2 linked regions of the Homo sapiens genome follow. The protein of the gene in region 2 purifies or fractionates together with the protein of the main gene of each other region. This does not show direct contact. Each region holds a gene or a part of one and is shown on either strand. Other genes may lie near its edges. The genes, in order: RABL2A and CCDC34.

Evidence for each region.
Region 1: the proteins of CCDC34 (region 2) and RABL2A purify together in Homo sapiens (affinity purification with mass spectrometry; 3 studies listed by BioGRID and IntAct, with this or other methods). This does not show direct contact.

What each region holds. Positions count from the first base shown.
Region 1 is NC_000002.12:113,637,208-113,652,517, reverse strand, and holds the end of RABL2A (rab-like protein 2A), read right to left. Parts: intron 15,220-15,310; exon of another isoform or gene 11,682-15,219; coding exon of another isoform or gene 11,625-11,681; coding exon 11,513-11,624; coding exon of another isoform or gene 11,484-11,512; exon of another isoform or gene 11,166-11,483; coding exon 11,068-11,165; coding exon of another isoform or gene 11,038-11,067; intron 10,738-11,037; coding exon 10,654-10,737; intron 10,488-10,653; coding exon 10,389-10,487; 3' UTR 9,329-10,388; coding exon of another isoform or gene 9,323-9,328; 3' UTR 9,126-9,322; downstream 1-9,125. UniProt on the Homo sapiens protein: Plays an essential role in male fertility, sperm intra-flagellar transport, and tail assembly.
Region 2 is NC_000011.10:27,342,862-27,358,544, forward strand, and holds part of CCDC34 (coiled-coil domain-containing protein 34), read right to left. Parts: intron 14,681-15,683; coding exon 14,542-14,680; intron 7,579-14,541; coding exon 7,471-7,578; coding exon of another isoform or gene 7,387-7,470; exon of another isoform or gene 6,008-7,386; intron 1-6,007. UniProt on the Homo sapiens protein: Involved in spermatogenesis. Has a probable role in anterograde intraflagellar transport which is essential for the formation of sperm flagella.

The sequences.
Region 1 (15,310 bases), on a different chromosome or scaffold from region 2:
GAGCTCAGGGTATCTATTCATTTATTTAGGGTACTGTGTCCTCTGAGTCATGAGCTCAGGGTATCTATTCATTTATTTAGGGTACTGTGTCCTCTGAGTCATGAGCTCAGGGTATCTATTCATTTATTTAGGGTACTGCGTCCTCTGAGTCATGAGCTCAGGGTATCTATTCGTTTATTTAGGGTACTGCGTCCTCTGAATCATGAGCTCAGTGTATCTATTCGTTTATTTAGGGTACTGTGTCCTCTGAGTCATGAGCTCAGGGTATCCATTCATTTATTTAGGGTACTGTGTCCTCTGAGTCATGAGCTCAGGGTATCTATTCATTTATTTAGGGTACTGTGTCCTCTGAGTCATGAGCTCAGTGTATCCATTTATTTAGGTTACTGTGTCCTCTGAGTCATGAGCTCAGTGTGTCTATTCATTTATTTAGGGTACTACGTCCTCTGAGTCATGAGCTCAGGGTATCTATTCATTTATTTAGGGTACTGCGTCCTCTGAGTCATGAGCTCAGTGTATCTATTCATTTATTTAGGGTACTGCGTCCTCTGAGTCATGAGCTCAGGGTATCTATTCATTTATTTAGGGTACTGCGTCCTCTGAGTCATGAGCTCAGGGTATCTATTCATTTATTTAGGGTACTGCGTCCTCTGAGTCATGAGCTCAGGGTATGTATTCATTTATTTAGGGTACTGCGTCCTCTGAGTCATGAGCTCAGGGTATCTATTCATTTATTTAGGGTACTGCGTCCTCTGAGTCATGAGCTCAGGGTATGTATTCATTTATTTAGGGTACTGCGTCCTCTGAGTCATGAGCTCAGGGTATCTATTCATTTATTTAGGGTACTGCGTCCTCTGAGTCATGAGCTCAGGCTATCTATTCGTTTATTTAGGGTACTGCGTCCTCTGAGTCATGAGCTCAGGGTATCTATTCATTTATTTAGGGTACTGTGTCCTCTGAGTCATGAGCTCAGGGTATCTATTCATTTATTTAGGGTACTGTGTCCTCTGAGTCATGAGCTCAGTGTATCCATTTATTTAGGGTACTGTGTCCTCTGAGTCATGAGCTCAGTGTGTCTATTCATTTATTTAGGGTACTGCGTCCTCTGAGTCATGAGCTCAGTGTATCTATTCATTTATTTAGGGTACTGCGTCCTCTGAGTCATGAGCTCAGGGTATCTATTCATTTATTTAGGGTACTGCGTCCTCTGAGTCATGAGCTCAGGGTATCTATTCATTTATTTAGGGTACTGCGTCCTCTGAGTCATGAGCTCAGTGTATCTATTCATTTATTTAGGGTACTGCGTCCTCTGAGTCATGAGCTCAGGGTATCTATTCATTTATTTAGGGTACTGCGTCCTCTGAGTCATGAGCTCAGGGTATCTATTCATTTATTTAGGGTACTGCGTCCTCTGAGTCATGAGCTCAGGGTATCTATTCATTTATTTAGGGTACTGTGTCCTCTGAGTCATGAGCTCAGGGTATCTATTCATTTATTTAGAGTACTGCGTCCTCTGAGTCATGAGCTCAGGGTATCTATTCATTTATTTAGGGTACTGTGTCCTCTGAGTCATGAGCTCAGGGTATCCATTCATTTATTTAGGGTACTGTGTCCTCTGTGCCATGAGCTCAGTGTATCTATTCATTTATTTAGGGTACTGCGTCCTCTGAGTCATGAGCTCAGTGTATCCATTTATTTAGGGTACTGCGTCCTCTGAGTCATGAGCTCAGTGTATCTATTCATTTATTTAGGGTACTGTGTCCTCTGAGTCATGAGCTCAGGGTATCTATTCATTTATTTAGGGTACTGTGTCCTCTGAGTCATGAGCTCAGGGTATCTATTCATTTATTTAGGGTACTGTGTCCTCTGAGTCATGAGCTCAGGGTATCTATTCATTTATTTAGGGCTGCTTCAATTTCTCTCAGCAATGTTTTGTAATTTTGAGTGTGCAGGTTTTTCACATATTTTGTCAGAATTATTTCTCAATATTTCGTATTCTGATATTCAATTGTTGACTGCCAGTATACAGAAATACAATTGATTTTTGTGTGGTTCCCATGTATCTTGAAACCATGCCAAGTTCATTTATTAATTCTGGTGCTCTGTAGCTGCCACTGGATTTCAACATAGACAATCAAGTCTTCTGTGAATAAAGACAGTGTTATTTCTTTCTTTATTTTTGAGATGGAGTCTCGCTCTGTCTTCCAGGCTGGCGTGCAGTGGCACAATCTTGGCTCACTGCAACTTCTGCCTCCCAGGTTCAAGTGATTCTCCTACCTCAGTCTCACGAGTAGTTGGGACTACAGGCATGTGCCAGAACGCCTGGCTAATTTTTGTATTTTTAGTAGAGATTGGGTTTCACCATGTTGGCCAGGCTGGTCTTGAACTCCTGACCTCGGGTGAACCACCCAACTCGGCCTCCCAAAGTGCTGGGGTTACAGGTGTGAGCCTCCACGCCCAACCTTATTTATGTTTTTCTATCTGAAAGCCCTTGTTTTTCTTGCCTTATTTCACAGTACAATGCTGAATGGAAGTGGTGAGAGTGGACATTCTTGTTCCTGAGCTTAAGCATGAAAAGCTTCAGTCTGTTGCCATTAAGTGTGATGTTAACTGTGGGTTTTTCACAAATACCATTTATTAGGCTGAGGATATTTTATTCTCTAAGAAAAATATAGAGGTTTATATTTTTGCTAAGAGGTTTATATTTTTATTTTTTACACAGTAATGAGTGTTGAATTTTGCCAGCTTTTCCTACATTTATTGAGATGATCATGTAATTTTTCTGTTTTTACTTAGTTAATCTGGTGTATTAAATAAACTATTTTAGAACAACTTTAGATTTATAGTAGTCACAGATTGTTACAGATTTAATCCTCTAGTTTGAGACTATTTCTCAGTCTTTCTTTGCTCTTATATGACCTTGACAAATTTGAGGGATAGTTAGGTATTTTGTAGAATATCCCTCCATTTGAATTTGTGTAATATTTTTCTCATGATTATATTGGGATTATGAATTTTGGGAAAAAGTCTCATAGAGACAAATTATCCTCATCACATCCTATCAGGAGTCTACAACATACATATGACAACAGTGATGACATTAACCTTGATCCGTTGGTCAGGGCAGTGTTTTCTGGGTTTCATCACTGTTCGCTTTCTATAAGTGCTTCTTTAGAAGTGAGCCACTCAGTCCAGCCCATTCTCTGTAGTGATGGTGGTTGGGGGTGTTGGCTCCACCCCCTGCAGATGGCAGGAGTTACACATAGTATTTTTAATTTTTCTGTATGAAAGATTTGTCTCTTATTATTCATCTATTCATTATATTAGTGTAGATCCCTAATGTATATTTATTTTATACAGTGGACTATAAACCAATATGACATTATATAATTTGTTGCTCACATTTTTCCAGCTTTGCCCATTGGGAGCCCTTTCATATTGGCTCTTGAGTCCCTTTGACATGCCTTCATCATTTTTTAAATTAAAAAATTATTACTAATTTATTTTTATTTTATGGAGATAGGTTCTTTCTATGTTACAGCCCAGGCTGGTGTGGTCTTGAACTCCCGGCCTCAAGCAATCCTCCTACCTCTGCCTTCCAAAGTGCTGGGATTACAGGTGTGAGCCATTGCACCCGTGGCTTCATTCCCGGCTTCATTTAATTTGTTGAGCACATCCTTCCTTTCTGATATAATAGGTGCTACAGGCTCATTTTGCATTTCCCCTGCTTCAACCCTGGAATCCACCATTTCTCTAAAGTAATCTGGTTTTTTCACTGGAAAGTGTTTTTTTAGAAACTAAGATCTGGACACTGGGTGTGCTTGTCAATACTGAGATGTATTACTTCTAAGCCCTCAAAGCTGGATGAGACAGTTAGGTAATATATGTTGTATACTAACCCATGTACACACATGTATCTATTATTGTTTTTGTATCTATCCATTTTATATATATATAAAGCTAAATGAGAGTTCACGATAATACTTTCACCTCTTATCCAGTACCGCAAGATTTAGTTTATCCTTTTCTTGCTTCCAATACTTTTTTTTTTTTTGAGACAGAATCTTGCACTGTGGCTCAGGCTAGAGTGCAGTGGCGTGTGATCTCAGCTCACTGCAACCTCCCCCTCGTGGGTTCAAGCGATTCTCCTGCTTCAGCCTCCCGAGTAGCTGGGACTATAGGCGCCCACGACCACGCCTGGCTAATTTTTTGTATTTTTAGTAGAGACGGGGTTTCACCATGTTGGCCAGGCTGGTCTCGAACTCCTGACCTCGGGATCCGCCCACCTTGACTTCCCAAAGTGCTGGGATTACAGGCGTGAGCCACCGTGCCCAGGCCCATTAATTTTTTTTTTTTTTTGAGACGGAGTCTCACTCTGTCGCCCGAGCTGGAGTGCAGTGGTGCGATCTCAGCTCACTGCAAGCTCCGCCTCCCGGGTTCATGCCATTCTCCTGTCTCAGCCTCCCGAGTAGCTGGGACTACAGGTGGCCGCCACCATGCCCGGCTAATTTTTTTTGTATTTTTTAGTAGAGATAGGGTTTCACTGTGTTAGCCAGGATGGTCTCGATCTCCTGACCTCGTGATCCGCCCGCCTCGGCCTCCCAAAGTGCTGGGATTACAGGCGTGAGCCACCGCGCCCGGCCCCATTAAATAATTTTTAAATGTTTAACTGACATTGCACTCCTGGGATAAACTCCACTTTAGTCATGTGTATTATCCTTTTAATATGCTGCTGGACTTCTCTTATTTATTTATGTATTTATTTTATTTAGAGGCAGGGTCTCATTCTGTCATCCCAGCTGGAGTGTAGTGGTGCAATCATAGGTCACTGCAGCCTTGAACTCTTGGGCTTAAGCGATCCTTTCATCTCAGCCTCCCTAGTAACTGGGACTACAGTCATGTGCCGCCACACCCAGCTAATTTTAATGTTTTTAGTAAAGACGGGGTTTTGCCATGTCGGCCATGCTGGTCTTGAATTCCTGGCCTCAAGTGATCTGCCCTCCTTGGCCTCCCGAAGTGCTGAGATTACAGGCGTGAGCCACTGCACCCACCCACAATTAATTTTAAAGTATTCTCGTTACTTGAAAATCTGTACCCTTAGCTTCCTGGCCCCCACCAAATTCCTTCCCAACTTCACCGGCAACCCCCCCACCCTAAACAACCACTATCTGTTATTTTTGTCTGTAATCTTTCTGTTCAGTAATCTTTCTGTCTCTGTAGATTTGCCTGTTCTGGACATTTCATATTAATGAAATCGCACAACCTGCGGTGCTTTATACGTGGCGTCTTTCATTCAACATACTTTTTTTTCAGTTTCATCCATGTTGTAGCACATATTAGCACTTCATTTCTTTGTATTTTTGAGTAATATTTCATCGTGTGGATATACCACATTTTATGGATATTTGGATTATTTCCAGCTTTTTGGTTATTATGGATAGTGCTGCTATAACCACTCATATACAAGCTTTTCTGTGAGCACATGTTCTCATTTCTCTTGAGTGTATACCTAGGAGTAGATTTGCAGGATCATATGGTTAACTCGATATTTCACCATTCCAGGACTGCCAAACTGTTTTCCAAAGTGCCTGCACTATTTTACTTCCTCCTCAGCAGTGTATAAGGGTTCCGATTTCTCCACAGCCTCATTAACACTTGCTATTATCTTTTTCATTACCAGTAAGTGGCATCTCATTCTGGTTTTGATTTGCATTTCTCTCATGACTAATGATGTTGAGCATCTTTTCATGTACTTATCGGCCATTTGTATATTTTCTTTGGAGAAATGTGCATTTGCTTCATGTATTTTTAAAAACCATTTTATCGATATACATATTTAAGGTATACCACTTGATGAGTTTGAAATAAGTATATACCCATAAAAACGTCACCACAATGAATGCCATAAACATATTCATCACTTCAAAAAGTTTGCTCCCTCTCTCTTCATTTCTAATTCTCATGTTTTGTGATAAGGACACTTAACATAAGATCTATTTCCAGTAAATCTTTAAGTATGTAATACAGTGTTGTTAACTATAGTCACTATGCTGTACAGGAGGTCTCTAGGACTCATCCCTCCGGCATAGCTGAAGCTTTGCACCCAATGAGCAATGCCTGCTTGTTTCCTCCTCCCCCTAGCCCTTGGCAACCACCATTCTACTCTCTGCTTCTCAGTTTGAATATTTTAGATTCCTTATGTAAGTGAGATCATGTAGTATCTGTCCTACTGTGTCCGGCTTCTTTAACTTAGTATATTTGCTGCAAATGGAAGGATTTCCTTTTTATTTTATTTTATTTTATTTTATTTTGAGACTGAGTCTCGCTCTGTTGCCCAGGCTGGAGTGCAGTGGCGTGATCTAGGCTCACTGCAAGCTCTGCCTTCTGGGTTCACGCCATTCTCCTGCCTCAGCCTCCCAAGTAGCTGGGACTACAGGTGCCCGCCACCATGCCTGGCTAGTTTTTTTTTTTTTTTTTTTTTGTATTTTTAGTAGAGATGGGGTTTCACCGTAGCCAGGATGGTCTCGATCTCCTGACCTTGTGATCCGCTGGCCTCGGCCTCCCAAAGTGCTGGGATTACAGGCGTGAGCCACTGCGCCAGGCCAGGATTTCCTTTTTTAAAAAGGCTGAATGATGTTCCATTGTACGTATATGCCACATTTTCTTTATGTATTCATCCGTGGTTGAAAAAAAAAATTTTTTTAAGCATCTCTTTCAATCTTTGCAGATTGGCTTTGTGCTGGGGCATTCCTTCAACACCTAACCAGGATATTAACAACTCTGTCTTAGCCTTCACTTCTTGATAACCCTGGACCTAGAGATCTTCCAAAGGAAAAAGCTTAGGGTCTTCTCAGATCTTTCCTGAATGCGTGACCTGCCCTGGGTATGTGCATGACATTTGAAATCCCCAATAAACACAAGTATTTTTTGAATGTCCTGATTTCCCAAAGAAACTCTCCCAGATTTTCCTCCCAGGCTTTATGTAATATATTGTATGTCTGAACCACAACTTTTTGTCCCAGGGAGCTGTGGGTTTTTTGGTCATCTCAGAATGTTTTTAAGCAATGCCTGCCACTTTTCTACCTTGAGTGGATTCAGACTTGGGCAAAACAGACAAATGCCTCATTTTAGTCTCTCAGATCGTTTCTGACCGGTTAGAATAGACAAACAAAGTCATTTGTGAATAAGGTCTGCCTTGCTCCCTCTGGAACCTGGGACCTGGGTCCTAAATTGGGAAAATGGACTACTATCTTCAAGATCACCATCAAGCTGATGAAGGGGTGGGGCAAGGGCAAGTGAAAATGCCACACCACTTTTCTGTCACTTTGAAGTTGCCCTTTCCTCATTTCAGGGCTTTCCTGATTGATATAAGTCTTTTACTGTTTTCCAGAGTTCTGGTAAAGTTTCTGCTGCTTTTTCTCCATGTTTCTGTAGAGGGACAGGAGTTTGGAGCTGTCTACTCTGCCATTTTCCTGATGTCACTCCACTTCTGAGTCTTTCCTATCTTTGTGGATAGCAGAGATGTCGATCTCGGATATGATACCCTGTAAGGATGGGGTCCTTCATGATGTGATATACAACTTAATATTCATTATATGGTTTTATGTCCCCAACATGTCTAGTAACCAAGGAGTGGACATAGGAGCGCCCCGCTCGCTAGCACTCTCAGTGACACACTTGGGGAATCTGTGTTTGTGTCTACAGCTTTAGGCTCTGTGAGCTGAAGTCTTGGACTCTGTGAGTGGCAGTGTGGGGAGTGGGGGAGGCATTTCCACCAAGTGATACAGTAAGAGTTTCACTAAACACAAAGCTATGGCTGCTTCCTAGACAGTCCATGCGCTTGTAACTGGCAAGCAGAGTTAGCATTCTGGAAAGAGGTGATTGCCTGTAATCGTCATTAGGAAGAAAGGATGTTGCCAGATAATAATAGGAAGGAGCACTGTATTTGGTACTCAGATGATTCATGCTGTCTCTTGGTACTTGCATGTTTAGATATAACTATGTAAGTGTTAACAACCACCGCCTCATAAAGGCATAGTAAGCAGGGGCTCATACCCCATTAGGCAAGAGGAGCAGGATCAACCCCCCAGGCAAACAACCTAGACCAGCAAAAGTGCTAGCCAGAGAATGAGAGGTGACAAGTATCAGTCTCTGCATGGGGTCCAACTACAATAGCAGGGGCTATGGTTTGTCCTTTCCCATTGACCCTTCTCTTGTACATTCCCCCAGGACTGGTGACCAGTTAGAAACATGGAGCAGCTCTACCTGGATGGAATGAACTTTAAGAAGCAGGTGGATCTGAGCAATGTACACATGGGTGGCTTGTGGATGTTGCTGGCACCCTGCCTAAACATTCATCCTCCAATTGCTTTGAGTTGGAAGCGCACAGTTACCCTTTTCCCCAGAGAACTGACCTTACTGAAACAGAAGGCCCCCTTCCACCTCACACCCTTGGCTGAAGGGCACAAAAGGCCCCTGGTCTTGAGGTAGGACTAACTCTGGAGGGCAATTTGCCCTCCAGAGCTTCCCTGGGACGGGGTGGGGTGGTGAAGCCGGCCTCCAGCTGAGACCACAACCTTGCTGAGCTTCTTGTCTCCTGCCCCCCTCACTCTTCTGAGAATGACCCTAATTAAGTCATTTGAACCACGGCCTTCTCAGGGTCAGCTTCTAAGGAACCTGATACAGAATAGTCCCATAAAACCAACACGATGGTGAACTTTATAGTCTGCAAATTCTATCTCAGTAAGGCTGTTGTATTTTTTTTAAAGTACTTAGTAGTTATTTACAGTAACTACATTTTTTTAAGTTCTACCTCATCAGGGTATACGTTCCTGGGAACCCCTGGTCAGGTCAAACATCTTACGTTGAACATCTAAGTATTGCTGATTTCAAGGGGAAATGTACTTGTTCTTGAGCTCCCAAATTAATAGGTAATTGAATTCTTTTGAAAACACTAAATTCCACTGAAATGGCCTCCAATATAGTGAATTGAGAGTAAACATGGGCTACCCTGCAACAGGTCAAGGCAGCTACCCTTCATTGATAAGGGTGATGATTTGCAGATTCTTTTGTCTTTTTGCTCAGTACACACTTCAGAGCCACAAAGCACATACATTTACTCAATGTTTATGTCATTCAGCCTTTACTGTAAAAAAGGAAACAATAAAAACAAAACCCTATTAATAAACACAATGCAAACAATGCCCGAGATTATCATAAAAACATACTAGCAAGCCACAAGTACCAGAGAGGGGTGAACAGGCATATCTGCTAGCTCTCCTCTTGCAGTCCTCAGCCTCCCACAGGAGGCACAAGGTCCAAACTATTCCTAAAAAAAAAGGACAGCCTCTTTATGCTGAAATAGGAACTTTAAAGGAAGCTCTTCTTGTAGTCCAAATGGACGTACCTTGTGGTATGGCTGTAAGGACTCGATTTTACCGCTTGTGTATTCCTAACTATAGCTAGGCCTGTCACCTGCTGTTCCTGTGATCTCAGCTTTACCTAGAAGAGCTCCTGAAACAGAGTGGGTACACGGAAATCTGGAATGAATAGCTATCTGCTCAAAAACGATTGTTTAAAAACAGATGATTGGGGCCGGGCGCGGTGGCTCATGCCTGTAATCCCAGCACTTTGGGAGGCCGAGGCGGGCGGATCACGAGGTGAGGAGATCGAGACCATCCTGGGCAACATGGTGAAACCCCGTCTCTACTAAAAATACAAAAATTAGCTGGGCGTGGTGATGCCAGCCACTCGGGAGGCTGAGGCAGGAGAATCGTTTGAACCAGGGAGTCAGAGGTTGCAGCGAGCCGAGACTGCGCCACTGCACTCCAGCCTGGCGACAGAGCGAGACTCCGTCTCAGGACGAACAAAGAAACAAACAAACCAGATGACTGGGAGATTGAAGAGGAAAAAAGATGGGAGAAAACGTAGGGAAAGGATGGGGCCTCACAGACTCAGCTGTGGGTGGGGGGGTAATCATTACCTCAGGAGAAGCCCAAGGAATTGTCCCCGAGGTGAGCTTTGGAAAGAAAACAAAAACAAAAACACCAAAAAACACCTAAATTTCCTGTATTAAAGTGACACATAATCATGTTTTCTGATTCTCTTCACTGTCTGCCTGGGGGGAGGGGGTGGGGAAGGTGTTAATGATGCTGATCCCTAATTCTGCTTCAAGGAGATCTGGTGGGGAATTCTTCCACCAGTCCAGAGTTTGCTGGTGCTGACCTCATCCCTGTATCACGGGCCTTGAATGTGGGAGGCTAATAGGATGGGTGGGTTGCAGGAGGTAGAAGAGGGGATGGCCTAGAGAGTTTCTCCATTCAGAGCTGGAGAGTTGTTGAAGGGAAGGGTATTTTAAAAGGGCTCCACCCACCCCTAGCCCCAGCCCCTCAGCTGTGGGGAGAGGCCACCTCCTCTGATGGGGTCTCGATGCTGCTGCTCTGTTCCTGGTCTGGCACGTCCTCCTCTTCCTGCTCCAAGCTGAAGTTCTGTGAACAAGGTCGCAGGTGAGGCCTGGCCCTGCATTTGCTCAACCGCAGCTCTGATACATTTAGTGGGGCAAACTTAGGCAAGAGTCACTCTACTGGGTTGTAGTCCCTATCCCTGAAGAGGAGCCGTTTCTTCCATCCCACCCGAAATGTGGACCTGACCTACCTCGAGCTCCTGAAAAATCTCATCCATGAAGTCCTGGGAGTTCTGTTTGTAAGACACAGCTAATCGAATTGCATCATTGAAGAGCTGGGGGTGAGGTAGAGATGGTGGATGAGAGTGCCTTGGACTCTGCCCAGTCCACCCCACTGGCCCCACTGTGAGACTACACAATACTCCATTCCTAAAATCAGCAACCTTACCCCTCCATTTGCCTCTCCCCGTCACCCTGACCTATGTATGGTCAATGGACTTCTGCCTCATCAAGTCCAGGCCCATCAGCTCCTCCCCTCCCTGCCACCCAGGCCCATGCACTGTCCCAGTTCTCTCCATCACACCTGCAGTAAGCCCTTCTCTTCACAGCTTCCCTTTACCACCTAGCGCCCTGACCTTGCTAGCTACCTCTGCAGTCAACCACACCTTCACAACATTGGTACCATCAGCAGCCGAGACGAAATACAGGGGCAGGGAGAACTTCTTGGCAAAATTGAAGCTTTTTTGGGTCACGTTTATGTCTGCTGTAGAGAGAAGGTAGGACATTGGTCTGTCAAGGGAAGGGAAGAAGGTTTGGAGGGGGGGCCACTGGAGGCCTTCATTCCAGAAAGTGGGATAGGCAGGGATGATTGGGAAACATGTCCTAGAAAGAGCTCAGTTAATAGGGATCTGTGTCTTGGAAAGAGGGCAGGTCGGCTTAGCTGGCTTCTTTATAAGGTGGGAAGAATGCAAGCAACCAACCAAGGGTTGTATCTTATCGTGGGAGGGAGGACCAATCACTGAAGGTTGCCTGCCCGGGGAATGGAGGAGGAAATGTATGAGGGCAGGTCCCCAGTGAATTGCTAACACCCAGGTGCAGGGATGGCCCCACCATCAATTTTATTGGCCACCACGATGCATGGGATCTCTGGCCTGAACTCCCGAAGCTCTGTATACCAGGTGCTCAGGTTCCTATAGGTGACTTTCCTCTGTATATCAAACACCTGCAAAGGGCAGAGGAAGAAAGATAGCTCAGGTATGTCAATGTTTCTGCACCCCATCTCCAGGTGACTCACACACCCAAGCAGGTAAGCATGAGCACATGGTGCTGTTTGTGGGAACGCTCTGAATTGCAGCCTCTCTGACCGCAGAGGCTGCCGTTTCTCAGGGAAGCCCCCTGGAGCCTCCAGATGCGAAAATGTTTTTAAAAATCTTATTCTTGGCCCAGTGCAGTGGCTCACACCTGTAATCCCAGCACTTTGGGAGGTTGAGGCGGGTCAATCACCTGAGGTCAGGAGTTTGAGACCAGCCTGGCCAACATGGTGAAATTCCGTCTCTACTAAAAATGCAAAAAATTAGCTGGGCGTGGTGGCGCATGCCGGTAATCTCAGCTACTTGGGAGGCTGAGGCAGGAGAATTGCTTGAACTAGGGAGACAGAGGTTGCAGTGAGCCCAGATCATGCCATTGCACTCCAGCCTGGGCAACAAGAGCAAAACTCTGTCTGAAATAAACAAATAAATAACGTATTCCTTTTTTGTTATCTTGTCATCTAATCTTATTCACCTATTTTAACAATCATAAATGGAATCAATTTGCCAATTGATGCAGTCTGTTAGAAATTGTAAAAACTTTTGTGTTTTTTAGTCCTCTTGTATTTATTGCTTAAACTGTTTTAAAGTTCCTCTGTAGTAACTGTAAATGTTTCTAGAGTTTTACTTTAGTTACTATTTACTTTTATTTATTTACTTTTTAGAGACAGGGTTTCACTGTCACCCAGGCTAGAATGCAGTGGCTCAATCACAGCTCACTGTAACCTCAAAACTCCTGGGCTCAAGGAATCCTCCTACCTCAGCCTCCCAAGTAGCACGCACGCATTAATTTTTATTTTTTTATTATTTTTTTTTTTGTAGAGGCAGGCTCTCCCTATGTTACCCAGGCTCATCTCAAACTCTTGGCCTGAAGGGATCCTCCCACCTGGGCCTCTAAAGGTGCTGGGGTTACAGGTGTTAGCCATCACAACTGCCCGATTTTTTTTTTTTTTTAGACGGAGTCTCACTCTGTTACCCAGGCTGGAGTGTGGTGGCATAATCTCAGCTCACTGCAACCTTTGCCTTCTGTGTTCAAGTGATTCTCTTGTCTCAGCCTCCTCAGTAGCTGGGACTACAGGTGTGCGCCACCATGCCTGGCTAATTTTTTTATTTTTAGTAGAGACAGGGTTTTGCCGTGTTGGCCAGGCTGGTCTCGAACTCTTGATCTCAAGGGATCTCCATATATGGAGTCTTGCTCTGTTGCCCAGGCTGGAGTGCAGTGGCGCTATCTTGGCTCACTGCCACTGCAACCTCCACTTCCTAGGTTCAAGCGATTCTCTTGTCTCAGCCTCCGGAGTAGCTGGGATTACAGGTGCGCACCACCATGCCTGGCTAATTTTTGTAGTTTTAGTAGAGACAGGGTTTCATCATGTTGGCCAGGCTGGTCTCAAACTCTTGACCTGCAGTAATCTGCCTGCCTAGGCCTCCCAAAGTACTGGGATTACAGGCATGAGCTACTGCACCTGGCTGATTTACTTTTAAGCTTTTGTTTACTTCTTTGTTCTTTCTGCTTTTTGTTTTTTGAGATAGGGTCTTACTCTGTCAGCCAGGCTGGAGTGCAGTGGCAGAATCTTGGCTTACTGCTCCTCCACCCCCTGGGCTCCAGTGATCCTCCTACCTCAGCCTCCTGAGTAGCTGGAACTACAGGCACATGCCACCATGCCTGGCTAATTTTGTTTATTTTTTGTAGAGATGATAAGCTCTCATTATATTAACGAGGCTGGTCTTGGACTCCCGGGCTCAAGTGATCCTCCTGCCTCGGCCTCCCAAATTTCTGGGATTACAGGCATAAGCCACTGTGCCCGGCCTCTTTAAATTTTTTTAAAGTAATTTTTATGTTTTATTATTTGCAGTTCATAATTGTATTACTTTATAATTTGTTTTTACCTATTTTATTTTTATTTATTTATTTATTTTGAGATGGAGTCTTGCTCTGTTGCCCAGGCTAGAGTGCAGTGGCGGTATCTTGGCTCACTGCCACTGCAACCTCCACCTCCTGGGTTCAAACGATTCTCCTGTCTTCAAACGATTCTCCTGTCTCAGCCTCCTGAGTAGCTGGATTACAGGTGCGCGCCACCACGCCTGGCTAATTTTTGTATTTCTAGTAGAGACGGGGTTTCAACATGTTGGTCAGGCTGGTCTCGAACTCCTGACCTCAGGTGATCTGCCCACCTAGGCCTCCCAAAGTACTGGGATTAAAGGCATGAGTCACCGCGCCCAGCCTGTTTCTACCTATTTTAAAATATCAGCAAGAAGGATGAGCACTGCAAACCAGCTCTAAGGGCAGAACTCTGAAAGACAACTGAGCTGCTGCTACAGTGAGCCTTCATGCCCTTCACAGGAGCTCCTCCAAAGTGTCTAGCCCAAACTGCCCTAGTACAACAGTCAGTGGATTAAAGTTACAGACAACCACCACCCTGTAACTGCTGGCACAGCTGACCTCACTTCTAAATCACCCAGCTATTTGTGCAAGCAACATGGTTCAAGCTCAGGGCTAGGGGCTCGCCCTGTGTGGTGGCGGGAGGGTCAGCAACTGTCACATCTCAAGAGGTGGCAGGAAGTCTATGTAGATTCTCTTTCACAGGCAAATTTCAATGAATCACCAGGTTGTCTTGAATTCCCGATGAAGTCTCCTTATAAAGGATGTCTGTAACTAAACTTCTGGAATCTGCCTCACACCAGGCTCAGATGACTTTTGTCCAGATCTGGTTTCCTGAGCATCTGTTCCTTGTTTTGAGAGCTGAGGAGGAACTGGCTAGAATGAGGAGCATCCCCATCTCAAGGTTTCAAGGTGGAGGGTCGAGCCCTGGTTCCGTCTCTGACCCTCAGCTCCCCGTGTGGTCAGAAGGCAAGTGCTTTCTACTTGCCAGGGCCCGTGCAGCAGACTGGGGCTGGTGGCAGGCACCTGCAGACACAGGCATGGTGGCAGGAGAGACACCCCAGGCCTTCAGAAGAGGGTCTGAGGGGAGCCCACGGAGATGCAGCAGATGCAGGAAGCAGTCACTCCAAGAGAAAAAGAGAGGTGAGCTCAAAATACCAAATGCCACTGTAGGCCTGAAACCAAACTGGCTAGGACCAAGCTCCTCTGCTCTTGAGGGTCAGACTTCTGCACTACACTGCCCCCATTTTCCTTGCCCCATTATCCTCTTGTTTAGTACCTTAACAGTTATCAGAGTTAAAGCTTTTGGAATTTTTCAAGGGATTTTGTTCTTAACGGGCAGTCGGGGGAATTAGGTGACGAGTTCCTTCCTTTACCATCTGCAAAGGGTCAGAAGGGAAGAATCCTCACTGTCCTCACCACTGGTATCTGTACTGTGCCTACCAGTCAGTCAGTTCCTGGGGGCAGCACGTGTGTCTTTCCACCTGGGCATTCCCAGCATCCTGCACACGTGCATCACAGACAGTCCATGTTGTGGAAGGGATCAGTGGTGCAGGAGCACACACGGAAGAGCTAAGCTAATGACAAACATCAGAGGAGGCTGCACGGAGGTGGTGGCATTGAAGCAGGGCCTGAAAAATGAGCAGAGTTTCAAATAAAGGGGTGTGAGCTGGGGAGAGGCTGAGGGAAGAGCATGAAGGAAGGTGTGCAGAGGAGCAGGTG
Region 2 (15,683 bases):
CAATGACATAGCCAGTCTTCTTTATCAAAGGTTTGGAAACAAATCTGGAAGGCATAAAAAGTATATGCAATACAAATGCCATACATATCACCCAGGCAAATAATTATGAGCCAAGAAAAGAAATTCTTCCCTTGAAAGCAGCTTATAGAATACATTAATATAAGCAATTCAATGAAGACTCAACCAACAAACATCAGTTATAGACAAGATATGTCCAGGGCTGTGCAGGAAAGACAGGTCTTAAAAATCAAAGCTCAGGATGGGCATGGTCGTTCATGCCTGTAATCCCAGCACTTTGCGGGGCCAAGGCAGGTGGATCACCTGAGGTCAGGAGTTCGAGACCAGGCTGGCCAACGTGGTGAAACCCCGTCTCTACTAAAAATACAAAAAATTAGTTGGGCGTGGTGGCATACGCCTGTAATCCCAACTACTTGGGAGGCTGAGGCAGGAGAATTGCTTGAACCCAGGAGGCGGAGGTTGCAGTTAGCCGAGATCGTGCCATTGAACTCCAGCCTGGGAGACAGAGCAAGACTCCGTCTCAAAAAAAAAAAAAAAAATCAAAGCTCAAGTAATTCCCCAAGTTGTATCAAAGTTGCTGTATTTCCTTCTTGCTGGGCAGCCAATAGCTGTGAAACAGAATCTTTTCATGCTGAGAACTCAATAGCCATTGGAACAATACTGGATTTTAACTACTTCAAACTGTCAGAAGATCTACAAATTGAAAAGGACCTTGGAGTACATCTTGCTTAATCTCCATGTGACTCATGACTGTCCTCCACAACTTTACCTATAAGAAATCAACCAGTTCTTACATTGTTTTTAATTATAGCAGCTGACATTTATTGAGTGCTAACTATGCCTGTTACCATTCTACATACTTTATTTGTACACACTCTCAATTCTTATAATCATGATGTGAGGTAGATACCATTATTATCCCATTTTACAAAGGAGGAAACTAAGGCACATGGAGGCTAATTTGCCTAAGGTCATAGAGACGGTGAGTGACAGATCACACAGACATCATACAGAAATCAAAATGGGAGAATGTTAAAACCAATTTTATGCCAATAAATTCAATATTTTAAATGAAATGTCAAAATTCCTTAAAATATGCCACTTCCCAAAATGAATTCGAGAAAAAGTAGTGTCTGAATAATCCTCTACTTATAAAAACAATTCAAAATTAAAAACTTTCCTACAAAAACTCCAGTCACTGAAAGCTTCACTAGTTGATTCCATTACAGTTAAAGATACTCCATATTTTAATAACATAAAATATTATTGTGGCATATCTTAATAGTATCAAACCTTAAAAAAATGATTTTAGAACACAGAGAAAAAGTAAACATATCAAAGCTCATTTTAAGAGTCCAGCATTATTCTGACATCAAAACCAGGCATGGAAATTACAAGGTGATATCAGAAACGTTCCATATGAGTGTGGCTGGGAAAAAAACATATATATGTTATAAACATATGTATATGTTATAAACACATGCATGCTGCATGTTATAAACACATGCATGCTGCATGTTACAAACATGTATGCTATATATTATAAACATGTGTGTTACATATATGCTATAACATGTTACTTGTGTTATACGCATTGTTACATGTTATAAACATGTGTACATTACATATATGCTATAAACCTGTGTTGTACATACGTGTAAATATATAAAATATATATTATATATCAGGAACAAGGCAAGATAACTGCCCTCATCAGCAAAAACATGAAATACTGAGAAATATATTTAACAAAATACTGCTATACATTGAAAACTAAAAAACACTGCTAAGAGAAATTAAAGAAGACATAAATAACTGGAAAGAAAAACCATGTTTATAGATTTAAAATTTGATATTATTAAGATAGGAATTTTCTCCAAAATGATCTATGTGTTTATATTTAGCAGAATCCCAATAGTGCCAAGCACTATTAGGACAGGCATTATTAGGGAAATTGATAAGATGATTCTAAACTGTATATGGAAAGATGCAGGGCAACTAAAACAAGTTTGAAAAAGAATTGAAGACCTGGAGGATTTACACTATCTGATTTCAAGAATAATAAAATTCAGAACTATAAAACTATACTAACAAGTTAGTGTGGTACTGCACAGGATATAAATCAATAGAATAGACTAGAATCCAGAAACAGACCTATAAATATGTGGTCAATTGATTTTAAACAAAGGTGCCAAAGGTAGTTTAATAGGGAAAAGATTATCTTGTCAATATTGTTAGGACAATTGGATATCCACATGCAAACAAATGAATCTTGACCGTTAATGCATACTATACATTAAAATTAAACTCAAATAGACATACAGGTAAAGCTAAAGCTATAAAGCTTCTGGAAGAAAACAGTGGAGAGTATTTTTACCCTCTTGTGGTGGGCAAACATTTTTTTTTAATTTTATTATTATTATATTTTAAGTTTTAGGGTACATGTGCACAACGTGCAGGTTTGTTACATATGTATACATGTGCCATGTTGGTGTGCTGCACCCATTAACTCTTCATTTAGCATTAGGTATATATCCTAATGCTATCCCTCACCACTCCACCCACCCCACAACAGGCCCCGGTGTGTGATGTTCCCCTTCCTGTGTCCATGTGTTCTCATTGTTCAGTTCCCACCTATGAGTGAGAACATGCGATGTTTGGTTTTTTGTCCTTGCGACAGTTTGCTGAGAATGATGGTTTCCAGCTTCATCCATGTCCCTACAAAGGACATGAACTCATCATTTTTTATGGCTGCATAGTATTCCATGGTGTATATGTGCCACATTTTCTTAATCCAGTCTATCATTGTTGGACATTTGGGTTGGTTCCAAGTCTTTGCTATTGTGAATAGTGCCGCAATAAACATACACATGCATGTGTCTTTATAGCAGCATGATTTATAATCCTTTGGGTATATACCCAGTAATGGGATGGCTGGGTCAAATGGTATTTCTGGTTCTAGATCCCTGAGGAATTGCCACACTGACTTCCACAATGGTTGAACTAGTTTACAGTCCCACCAACAGTGTAAAAGTGTTCCTATTTCTCCACATCCTCTCCAGCACCTGTTGTTTCCTGACTTTTTAATGATTGCCATTCTAACTGGTGTGAGATGGTATCTCATTGTGGTTTTGATTTGCATTTCTCTGATGGCCATTTCTTAAATAGAATACAAAAACTACCAACAATTAAAAAAACTGAAATATGGAAATTCATCAAAATTTAAAACTTCTCTTTAAAAAATACCATTAATCAGTGCTTCTTCTTGTTAGTGAAAAAAAAAATACCATTAAGAAAAATTAAATGGGGATTTCATGACCAGCCTGGCCAACATGGTGAAACCCCATCTCTACTAAAAATACAAAAATTAGCCAGGTGTGGTGGTATACTCCTATAATCCCAGCTCCTCAGGAGGCTGAGGCACGAGAATTGCTTGAGCCCGGGAGGCAGAGGTGCGGTGAGCCAAGATCATGCCACTGCACTCCAGCCTGGTCAACAGAGTGAGACTCTGACTCAAAAAAAAAGAGACAGAAGAGAGGGAAACAGGAGGGGAGGGAGGGGAGGGGAGGAAGGAAGGGAGGGAAGACAGAGGAAAGAAGGAAGGAAGGAAGGAAGGAAGGAAGGAAGGAAGGAAAAAAGGAAAAGTTAAATGGGAAGAAATATTTGCAATACATATATCTGAGAAGAGACTTATAGTCTGAATATACAAATTCTCATATCTTAATAATAAGCCATACAACCCCTTCAAAAATGGGCAAATGACTTAACACAACACAAAACAAGCCAACAACACAAAACAAGCCAACAACAAAAGAGATGTAGAAATGGTCAATATATGTTATGGACTGAATTGTATTCCTGCCCCTCTCCCAAATTCCTATGTTGAATCCCTAATCCTCAATGTGACTGTATTTGGAGATTGCATCTTTAAAGAGGTAATCAAGTTTAAATGAGGTCATAAGGGTAGGACCCTAATTCAATAGGACTGGTGTCCTTACAAGAAGAGGAAGAGACACCAGGGATATATGTGAACAGAGAAAAGCCCTGTGGGGACATAAAAAGACAGCCGTGGAGAGAGGCCACAGGAGAAACCAAACCTACAGATGCCTTTATCTTGATTTCCAGTCTCCAGAACTGTGAGTAAAGATATATTTCTGTTGTTTAAACCACCCAATTTGTGGTATTTTGTTATGGAAGCTCTAGAAGACTAATATAATAAGCTTATGAAAATACGCTAAACATCATCAGATCTCAGGGAAATGAAAATTAAAACAATGGCATACCACTCCACACTCACTAGAAGGACTTAAAATGAAAAAGATTGGCCATACCAAATCTGCCAAAGATGTGGAGCAACTGGAACTTTCTTATTATAATAGTAGTGGAGATGTAAAATGGTACATGTACTTTAGACAAATGTTTGGCAATTTCTTATAAAGTTAAACACATACTTACCATATAGCCCAGTAATTTAGTTCCTAGGCATTCACACAAGAGAAATGAAAACAAGTGTCCACAAAAAGACTTGTACATGAGTGGTCACAGAATTTTATTCATAATATCCCAAACTGAAAACAACTCAATTGTCCATCAACTAGTGAACAGATAAACAATTTCTATGAAATTGAATGAAACAGATAAACATATTCTATGAAATGTATTTCATAGAATACTATAGTCAGCAATAAAAAGGAATAATACATGAAATATCAGGATAAGTTTTAAAACAAAAGACCAACACAAAAGACTATATATTCTATCATTCCATTTATATGAAATTATAGAAAAGGCAACTCTAATCTACAAGTACAGAAAGCAGATTAATGGTTTCCTTGGAGCTGAGGCTGGCTGGGGGCAGGGAGTGGGGGTGAATGCAAAGGGGCAAAAGGAAACTCTCTGGGGTGATGGAAATGTTCTGTATCTTTAATGGTGATGGTTACATGGGTACCTAAATTTGCCAAAGTCATCAAACTTAAAATAGTTGTATTTTATTGTATGCAAACTACAGCTCAATAGAATTAATTCTGAAAAAAAATCAGACAGACTTCTGTAGGATTTAAACTAAAGAAGTGTGAACAGAATGCCTTTAGTTAGCAAAAGGAAGACACAACAGGCACTCAGAGCAGTCACTACTACCGAGAGAGGAACCAGCCACTAAGTGGCTTCAGATTTTCTGGCACGCTAGTTCTACACCACACAGAGCACAACAATAAATCTTCCTTTTTTAAAGACGCTGCACCGAGAGAACCTTTGTTTCATACAACTAAAGGAAACTAACATAACAATTGGCTACTTAAAGTTTCTGGATTTCTGTTTTGCTTTCTCCAATAGTGCCTCGCACACAGTAAAAGCTGAGTAAATATTTGTTGAAAGCATGAATAATGCAATGATAACAGTGTTATCCATCATATACCTTGTTGATCTGAATTAATGTCTTACATTAGAAAATCAGTTGTGTTTTGAGAACGAAAAACGATTTTATTTTTAAATAATTTTTAAAAACATTAAAAGTAAAGGACCTTTTACAAAATATGTGATAACACTGTAATAAACACATCCAGAAAATAAATTACCACGGCAACACAAATGTTAGGAGTACCAGATGAGATAGAACATTTATTTTAAAAGCACTTAAGAATTTACAGTCATATTATAAGAAACTAGCTTTGCTAATGAATGCATAAATTCTTTGTGTCTGATTTTTTGATAAAACACAGTGAATATGACTTAGAGAAAATAGCAGCCACAGATACAGCTAAAATGTGAATGAAGCTGGAGGCAGCTGAGGACCACACACCATGAAATGTAAACAGAGGAGAAAAAAGCTAGATGCCAGACAGGAAGAGAAGAACCAGGAGAGCAGTCTTTACAAATAGAGGTAAATGTAACTATGTCTGAAAGAAGAAATCTGATAGGTCTTAAAGAAAAAAAAAAAAAAAAAAGAATAATCAATTATTCCTTAACATGAACAAGAGTTCTGCAGAACAGGTAAATATAACGTCTCAGTTTTATTTTTAAATAATTCTCAACATTACGGAATTTTGCCTTCAATAACTAGTGATTTATGTCAGGGCAAGCCACTTCCCTCCAAAAGAAATAATTTTTTTTTTCTTCAAATAATTGGATTAGGTCTACTGCCACTAATTAAAACAGTGAATATATTGTCTCCCAGAAGTATCTTACATTCCTAGACAAACAACAACTAGGTTTGATTGGCATGGTAAAATTAGCTTAATGGAGTTAGAAGATAAGAAGGACTTTTAGAGGAAAGAGCAAACTATTCTGCATGTGTAAAATAATTTTGTTTTATAGTTACAAATTTCAAAAAGATATTACCCAAAGTTTTATAACAGTCACAGAGATTTATTTTGATTTTTGAATTTATTCACAAAGATCTCTTTCATGTTATATCATGGGATGAAGTAAACTTTTTTAAAAAAACAAAGTAATTGACTTCTAAACAAATATGGTTATAACACACATACATCTAACCAATTTCCTTCTTATAATACTTGGATGAAGAAGGTTATATCATCTTCAATTTACTGAAATTATTTACTTAGTACTCTTATTAATACCATTAGGCATTAGATTCAACAATAAAGATAAAAAGTTAGAATTAAAATTTAAAATATTGTCCTACAATTTAAACATTTTTCCACATTTGTAAAACTGGATTATAATAATAAAAGCAGTACCACTCTAAATATGTAAAAATCACAACAGAAGACAAATTGACCACAGAATAAGTATTTTTAAAATTTCGAATGTGTGTGATCCATAGAAGAATATATTAAAATTAAAAGGAAAAAATGCAGCCATTCAATGAACATCTTCACTCAATTAAACTATTTTTGGACATATATCATGCGCAGGTATTCATCTAGCTCCTGGAAAACTGAACAAAAGAGGCAAAAATCCCTGCCCTTATGTAGCTTACAATCCAGTATAAGAAGTAAACAACAAGTTGAAAGATATAATGGAAAGAGATCACAAACAGGGGAGTAGTAATTGTAAAGAAAAGGAGGAGATGATTAGGAACAACAGAAGAATTCTAATTAAGCCTTGATGACCGAGAAGACAGCTGAATGAAACAGAGAAATGGGAGGATGGATTTACGAAGGAGAAATGGGCAAAATGGGTTGTTTTAGATTTGCAGACTTGGAGGCACTTGCCATAAGGATCCAAAAGGTCAGGCCTAGAAATACAGACTTGGTGACTGCCTGCAGGCAAATATTAGTGCAAGCCACAGGAGGGAAAAAGGAGAAAAGTAGAGGGCAAAGGGCAGAAGATAGAGACTTGATAAATGTCCACCAGGATAGAAAAACAAAACAAGCCAAAGAAGAAAGACTCTAAGAGAAGTATTTTTTAAAACCTAGGTAATGAAGTATAATAGGAAGAAATATTTTGCAAAAGAGATGTCAATGTGTGTATCCATTTTCCCCTCCTTACTTGCTCATTCTTTTTCTGAACCCATTCCTTGTGCTTTTCTTCAGCAATTATCTTTCTTTTTTCACGTTCTTCCATTTCTTTTCTTTTTTCTAGTTGTTGATTTAATTCCTGTGGATTTTATTTAGACAAAAGGCAACATTTAATAGAAGTACCCAAATAACATACATTTTAAAAGTCTGAGGTTATTAACCAAATTAAACAAGAATATAGTTTCCTTTATGGAGCATATGCCACTAGTGGCAATAACTTACTTAAGTAACCAGTCTATGATGAAAAAAAGCATTGGTAAAAGTATAAGTCATTTTTTAGAAATGTGCAAATAATTGCTTGGCAGCAAAACACTAGTTTCCTAGACTAAACTTCAGCTAAATTACCCTCATTGAAATCAACTTTCCCACACATAAATTTTGGCATCACTCTAAGCTACTGGCAGAAGCTCAAGAGAATTGCAACTTTTTTTTTTAAACAGTTATAAGAAGCTTCTGGATTCCTGATGAAGATAAAGCATAGAAATTAAATAATCCCTATATTAAAAATTTAATTCAGTTACACAAAAGAAATACAAAGAAACCATTCAATTTTCCTTAGGGAAAAAAGAACCCAGAGTTTTCTTCACTGGTTTTATAGCTGCTGAAGTGTAAAACAAAATCACATTCATATCCCAGATTATTTAACTGCCTTGCTGTCACTCGAATCTACACGTTTGGGCATTTCCTCAGGAAAAAGAATGTGAAAGGTATGGCCAAATAAAACTACAAGTTGAATGCCACCACTCTGTCACTCATCAGTTAAATTACTGCATTGGTTTAGAATGCTGTTCAAACTAGACTTCACTAGGACTCCACAACCATAATTACTGGTTATTTTTCTTCTCCGTCTTTAGATACTAATAGTCAGATACCTTACGTATCTTCTGTTGGTCTCCACACTCCTCCATAGCCCTTTCTTTCCCAAAGACCTACCTACTTGGGCATGGGTGGTAGTGGGAAAGACAATTTTCCAACCCTCAGACTAATTCCAGTGTCTTAAATGAAGATAAAACTTGACACCAAGAACATCTCTTTTGCATTTTAAACAACTGGTCACAGGAAATCTGTCTTCCATAATCACTCATCCTAAAATTCTGCTGCATAGAAGATAGCCGCCCTCACTCAGGAAGTCTTCCAACTTTTAAACACTATACCCCCAAAAGCAAATATCCATCTTTAAGGATTTTTCATCACTTCAGCAGCTATTGTTCTTTGATGACTTACTCAGTATACTTTTATGGTACACCTACTATGGACCTAGCAATAACTGATATAAATCTGATATAAAGATGAAATCCCAGAAGTCTCTGATCTGATTTTCTATACACTAAAGAAATAAGTGCTACATTGCGAGTTATTGCATATCATAAAAGTTCAGAGAAGGGAAGGGAAGATGAGGAGAAACATCTTTCCTTCCCCCTAGCCTAGTCTACCAGGCTAGTCAGAAATGAGCACCATACAAGGAACAGTGAAAAGATGGCTTCGAAAGGAGAGAGATTGGGAGGTGGGAGGGGGTAGAAAATTTGAGCGTGGTACTAGGTAGATGGAGAAGGTCTTTTGAGACAGGCAAAGTAAAGTGAACTATATGAAACAAGAATACCCGGCAAAAGGGAAAATTCAGAGCTCTTAATGACAAAGGCTGAAGACTGCATTTGAAGGGATGAGAACTATTCTGAGGAAGACTGACGAAGAGTGTGCCATAGTATATGAGTTATAAGAAAAAGAAGGCCTGGGCCTCTGGGCCAGGCGCAGTGGCTCATGCCTGTAATCCCAGCACTTTGGGAAGCTGAAGCGGATGGATCACTTGAGGTCAAGGGTTCGAGACCAGCCTGGGCAAAATCGTAAAACCCTGTCTTTACTAAAAATACAAAAATTAGCCAGGTGTGGTGGCAGGCGCCTGTAATTCCAGCTACTGGGGAGGCTGAGGCCGGAGACTCGCCTGAACCTGGGAGGCAGAGGTTTCAGTGAGCTGAAATCATACCACTGTACTCCAGCCTGGGTGACAAAGTGAGACTCCATCTCAAAAAAAAAAAGGAAAAGGAAAAGGAAAAGAGGGTTTGGACTTAGGAAACAAAAGGGGGAAAAATTATACATATATATACATGTACACATACAAATACATGTGTATATATGTATGTTTATATGTGCATGTGTGTATATATACAAATATATAAATATGAAAGACATTAATTAATTGGCTAGATATAGACCTGACAACTACATATCAAAAATTTTCCAAAATAGTCCCAAATTTTATTTTCAAGAAAAGTAATTATTTAAATGTATAACTAAAGACATGATTGACTATATATTTATGTACCTTTTAAGATTCTTCATTTACCTAAACTAAAAAATCAGAAAAAAAGAAACCCTGTACTCCTATTTGATGGCTAACAAATTTTAGTTAATGTTGATTGAAGGGTTAAAGAAAAAGGGTCAAAATGTATCTAGAAAATGCTACCAATAACCCAAACAGTGTTCTAATCTTGGATGTCTGTTCAAGTAATTTGTCAAACCAGAATATACATCACATTTTGAGACACAACCCTCCCTTCCAAGTCTGGCCCTTCTTAGAATTTCCCACCCTGAATGACTCCATGTTTACCACAAAGGCCAGTCTCCTTCAGGACACAGCTGGAGTCTTCCTTCGAAAGGCCCCTACATGGTCTTCTGGTATACCACTGAATTTCAACAGGATTACAGATAGCTATTAATATTTTCCCGTGGAATACAACACTTGATTATGGAAAACCAAAATCCAAAGAAGATCTTAAACATGCATTTTTATTTTAATAGGTTTTGCCTACTTTCAAATAATTTTTTACCACTGAAGGTAATAATAATCAGAAAAACTGACAGTTTTGAGTTTCACCAACAGCTCTATATCCTGCCCTATTCGTTCGTTAAGGGCTCATTAAGGGCTAATGAATAAAATGGCCAAAGGCAAGATGGTTAAAAAAAAAAAGAAAAAAGAAGGCACCAGGACTACTCACAAACTAGGTAATTTTTATAATTTACAACTGATTATAATATTAAAGCAAATATTAAGAATTAGAATCAGCCAATGACCATAGAGAACCTGGAGCAGTTGGCTAAATAATTATTTATAATAATTAAAAAGTAAATAAAAATTAAATGACCTATAAAACCAATATACTAGTTTTTCATAATGCTTGATAATTGATTCAATATTTACCATATTTATCATCTCAACAAAAGTTACAAATGTATACCATTTTGTAAGTGGGTAATTTTTATGAATTAAAATAATTTTTTAACTTAGTCCCACAGAGATGTCTGAAACAAACCAAATGTCTGATGCTCAAATCAAATTTATGAGTGTGGATGATCTTTTTAATGATTAAATTATCCTACAAATGTTCTCTTAAATCTTAAAGGAAGAAAATACGAAAGCCAGAGTTCATTAAAAAATAAATACTAAGTCTGACTCACTTATTTCTAAAATACATCTTGATATTGTGGGAAAAGCATTTAAATGGAAGTCAAAGAATTAGGTGCCAGTCCCAGTTCTGCCATGGACGAAGCCTTGGCAAAATTACTTTTCTGCCTTTCATGCTTTTTAGTTTTAATAGGGATCTGAGATGACTATTCTTTATGGTTAAAAATTTGATATGGTTTATAAACAAATTAGGGATACAGTAAATACAGAAAAATAAGGAAAACATGAGATAAAAACAAAATAAAGGAAAAGGCAGTGAAAGAATGTGAATACCACAAGAGCTCAACATGAGCTTACAACAAGCTGAGTAGTTGGCCTATATGTTAGGATATCCCTGGCATAACTGATATGTAAGAGTCATGCTAAAACTGAATCACTTCAGAGTTGAGTAATAAAGTAGCCATAAGAAATGTCAAACTACTAAATATATAAAAAGGTTTTAATCTTTGAACCAAATTACAAATAATTATACCCTGCTACATGCTTATCATTGTGATAGGGTTTATATTTATTATTTTAATCTGTTCTCAAAACAAATCTTCATAGCAGTTATTATGATCTCCTTTCACATATAATAACTTTGAGTGCTTTGTACATATTAGTCCATATCCTGATGTTCATTTAGTCCTCATAACAACACTATGAAGCAAATATTATCCTCCCCCTTTCACTGATAAGGAAATTGAGACACAGAAAGGTTAAGGATTTGCCCAAAGTCCAAATTTTGAATGCAGGAAGTATGGCTCAAGAATTTATGGTTTTAAACCAGGCACCGTGGCTCACACCTGTAACCCCAGCACTTTGGGAGGTGTCACTTGAGCCCAGGAGTTGGAGGCCAGCCTGGGCAACATGGCAACCCCCCCACCCCCACCCCAACAAACAACAATAAAAACAAAAATTAGCCAGGCGTGGTAGCGTGTGCCTACAGTCCCAGCTACTCAGGAAGCTGAAGTGGAAGAGGAGGGGAGGTCAAAGCTGCAGTGAGCTGTGATCACGCCACTACACTCCAGCAAGGGTGACAGAGTGAGACCCTGTCTCAAAAAACGAAAACAAAACCCAGAATTTACACTTTTAACTACTCCACTATTGTCTCTCTAACATCTGGCTTATAGATGAAGAAACTGAGGCTCAGAGAAGTTAATTAACTTTTCTAATGTCACAGAATTAGAATGGCAAGGCTAAAATTTCAGCCTTGTTCTGTGTGACTACCAAGCCCGGGCTTTACTAACTTTCTGAAATTCAATTAACTTCTCTCTGTACACTGACTAAAAATGACTGGAAGTGACCCTCCTTTTCTTAATATAACAAGTAACTTCTTGTGAGACTGTAGATAAAGCCCAATACCAGAAATTGAATTTTGTTCTACCATTAACTCACAGGATCAGTATTTTCCGAATTGTAAGTTTAAAACCAATTTAATGAATTATGACCAGCCTTTTGAAAAAAGAATAGAATACCAGGTTTTGCACAAAATTAAGATGCTATTTCACATACATATGTATAAATACATATATATAGAGAGATATATGTAGGTATGTGTTTTTATAACATAAAAAAATAGAGTGCTCACTATGAACAAATATTCTTAAAAGCTACTAACTAAATAATGGACTTAGTCATTGAGGTAAGAGAAGTAAGTCTGGGAATTCAAAAATACACCCCAATTCTGAAAATAAATGAAAAAGCTTTAAGAAGACTATGAATAGTAATGATATAAATAACAATACAAATAAAAACAAAGCCAGGCATCTTTATACTTTGTTACATTTAATCCTCACAAAACCCCTGTGACACAGGTATTATTTTATTCCTCTTAAGCAGACGAGAAAATAGAAACATAAAAGTTTCAATAACTTGCTTACACCCAGCAAATAAAAAGAACCAGGGTTTTTATTATTCTTGCCTAACATCAACCGTAAGGTCTTTCTCAAGCCCTGTGTACTGTCAAGAGGAAATAAGTGCCACTCTCACAGCGCACTTTTCCAGGAATAAATTTGTAATCTAGAATACAAAGTATCATACAATAGGAAAACAGCAGAATGTATTAGTTTTCATAATCATTTGAATTATGCCAAGCCTCTGGGACATGTGACTGCTTGCCTGGTTAGAAACTTATCAAATAATAACTGGTTTCAAAACTAACAGAAAAGTTATTCTAAGGAAGATCATGAAGCTTTTGTTCCCAGGATTTTTTTTTTTTTTTTTTTTTTTTTTTTAGACAGAGTTTTGCTCTTGTTGGCCAGGCTGGAGTACAATGGTGTGATCTCAGCTCACCACAACCTCCGCCTCCTGGGTTCAAGTGGTTCTCCTGCCTCAGCCTCCTGAGTAGCTGGGATTACAGGCATGCACCACCACGCCCAGATAATTTTGTATTTTTAGTACAGATGGTCTCTCCATGTTGGTCAGGCTGGTCTCAAACTCCCAACCTCAGGTGATCCACCTGCCTCGGCCTCCCAAAGTGCTGGCATTACAGGTGTGAGCCGCCATGCCCGGCCAATTCCCAGGATTTTTTTTTAGCAACAGTTACTAATAGACTGAAACATCCAACAAGAGTGAAACAGATAACTATATTTTAACAAATATGTAATACATTTTAAATATATTTAAATAATATTAGACAGCCATTTTTAAATGTTATAAAAATGTTTAATGATAGAGAAAAAGAGTTTTATCCTGTTTCATTAAAAAGAAGAAGTGTCCCTCATCATTCAAATCTATCTGGCTTCAGTGTTTGGATAGGAAGAATTCAGATAGTCTAGATAGTGGGTTTAGGGGATGCCAAATTATCCAAATCTATTTGGTTGCCATGTTCTGAAACAGTAAGAGTTCAAAAAATATGTGAATATTCTCATTAAAGAAGAGATGTGAAAATGCATCTACAACTATTTATTTTTTGAGTTCATATAGTAAAAGTTCAAAAGAGACTCACGCATGGAAATGTCCATAAGTGAGGGAGGCACAGAGAAACTGAAACACCCTGAAAGACTAGCAAGCAGTTTCCCACCGCCCAGCACATAGGGCACATGCTCACTGAGTGACACACGGTGGGGTGGGGTGGGGTTGGGGGTGGTGGGGTGGGGTGGGGTTGGGGGTGGTGGGGTGGGGTGGGGTTGGGGGTGGTGGGGGGGGGCAGGTAGATTCTTGCCTCTATTTTGTTTCAGTAAAGTTAAAAATTTTGCCGAGTGTATACAGTTGAATTTACTTTAGTTAAATGTACATATGTTGATGCTCCAGTGTATGTAGACATACAACTTATACATACATTTGTACGTATTTCAAAATAATTTACATAGAAGAAAATCTGGAAAGCTATGTCATAATACTAACAATGATTATCTTCAGACAGTGAAATTAGAAGAGATTTTAATTTTCTTAATTATGCTTAGCTGTATTTTCCAAATGCTCTAACAATGAACATATTTCTATTATTATAACTTATTAGTTATTAAATTTGATATAGTAAACTAACATAAATGCAAAGACTTTGTTTTCAGGAATAATAACATTAACATTTTAATTTACAACTGCAGCTCTACTTTGTGAGCTCACAGATTAAATAAAAAGAACACTGTCTAGTTTTACCTCTAGAGCTTTCAGTTGCAGCCGGTCACGTTCTTCTTTTTCTTTGCCAATAAACCACACCTCCCATGGTGTCAGGCGGCTTTCTGGTAAGCGCACCTGTTTCTGTTCTTCTTGGTTATTTTCTGATTCAACCTGAGTGCTACAAAAGAGAGGCTACTATAGTACTTGTACAAGAACCTCTTTTGCTTCCTAGTCCAAATCACTTAACTGTACAGTAAAAGCAAAACTTAATAGTGTATTTTCAATATTGTGATTTTTACAAATATACAGGAATTATACATAAGTATACATTTAAAAAATCATGAAAAGAAATTCTAATATTTGAATTAGTTTACCTATCAAACTGCCTTTGAATTCCTTCACCTTCTAAAACCACGTTATTTAAAACCCCATTGGGATAACCCACACCCTATACATTTGCCTCAATGCCAACACTTTTTTATTTCTAAAAATCTTACCTGGATAACTAATTACTCATTACAACATATAATCCTAATCAGATACTGAAGCAGACTCTTCCCTTTCCCGCCCTTAAGTAGTTCAGGAAAAAAAGATTATGTAGTGCACACAAAGAGAATAATAGAGCAAACATGTAACAATTAGGGACTGTGGGTGAAGGGTAAATGAAAGTTCTTTATATTATTTCACCTTTTTTATAAGTTTGAAATTGTTTTGAAATAAGAAGCCACAAAACATTCTTTAACATTTTGGTTGACACCCTTTTGCCAATCCTTAGACAGGGTGTGTATGACTCTCTAGTCTGGTTACCTCCTACCATAGTCTCCATCTCCACCATGCACCTCTGTCAGTCTGTCTCTTCTGAGGGTAAGGAAAAATAACAATTCAGGGTAAAGAGAAGAGGGGCAGGGAAATAAGTATATACATAAATAAAGAACACAGGGTCTTGGCCAGATACACAAGCCTCATGAAACTGAGAAAAAGCTTAACAATCAGCAGCCATAGAAAGCAAGGTTGTTCAGGACATAAGGTAGCTCTAAAGACTAGTTTATTACAGACTCAGTTCTTTGTCTCTTTCACATTCCTGCTTATAGCAACCAATTGCTTCACCCACTGCTTTGCACAACTTTTCTACTTCATAGATTCAGCTTACTCATTATTTTCTGCTACTATTATTTCTTCAT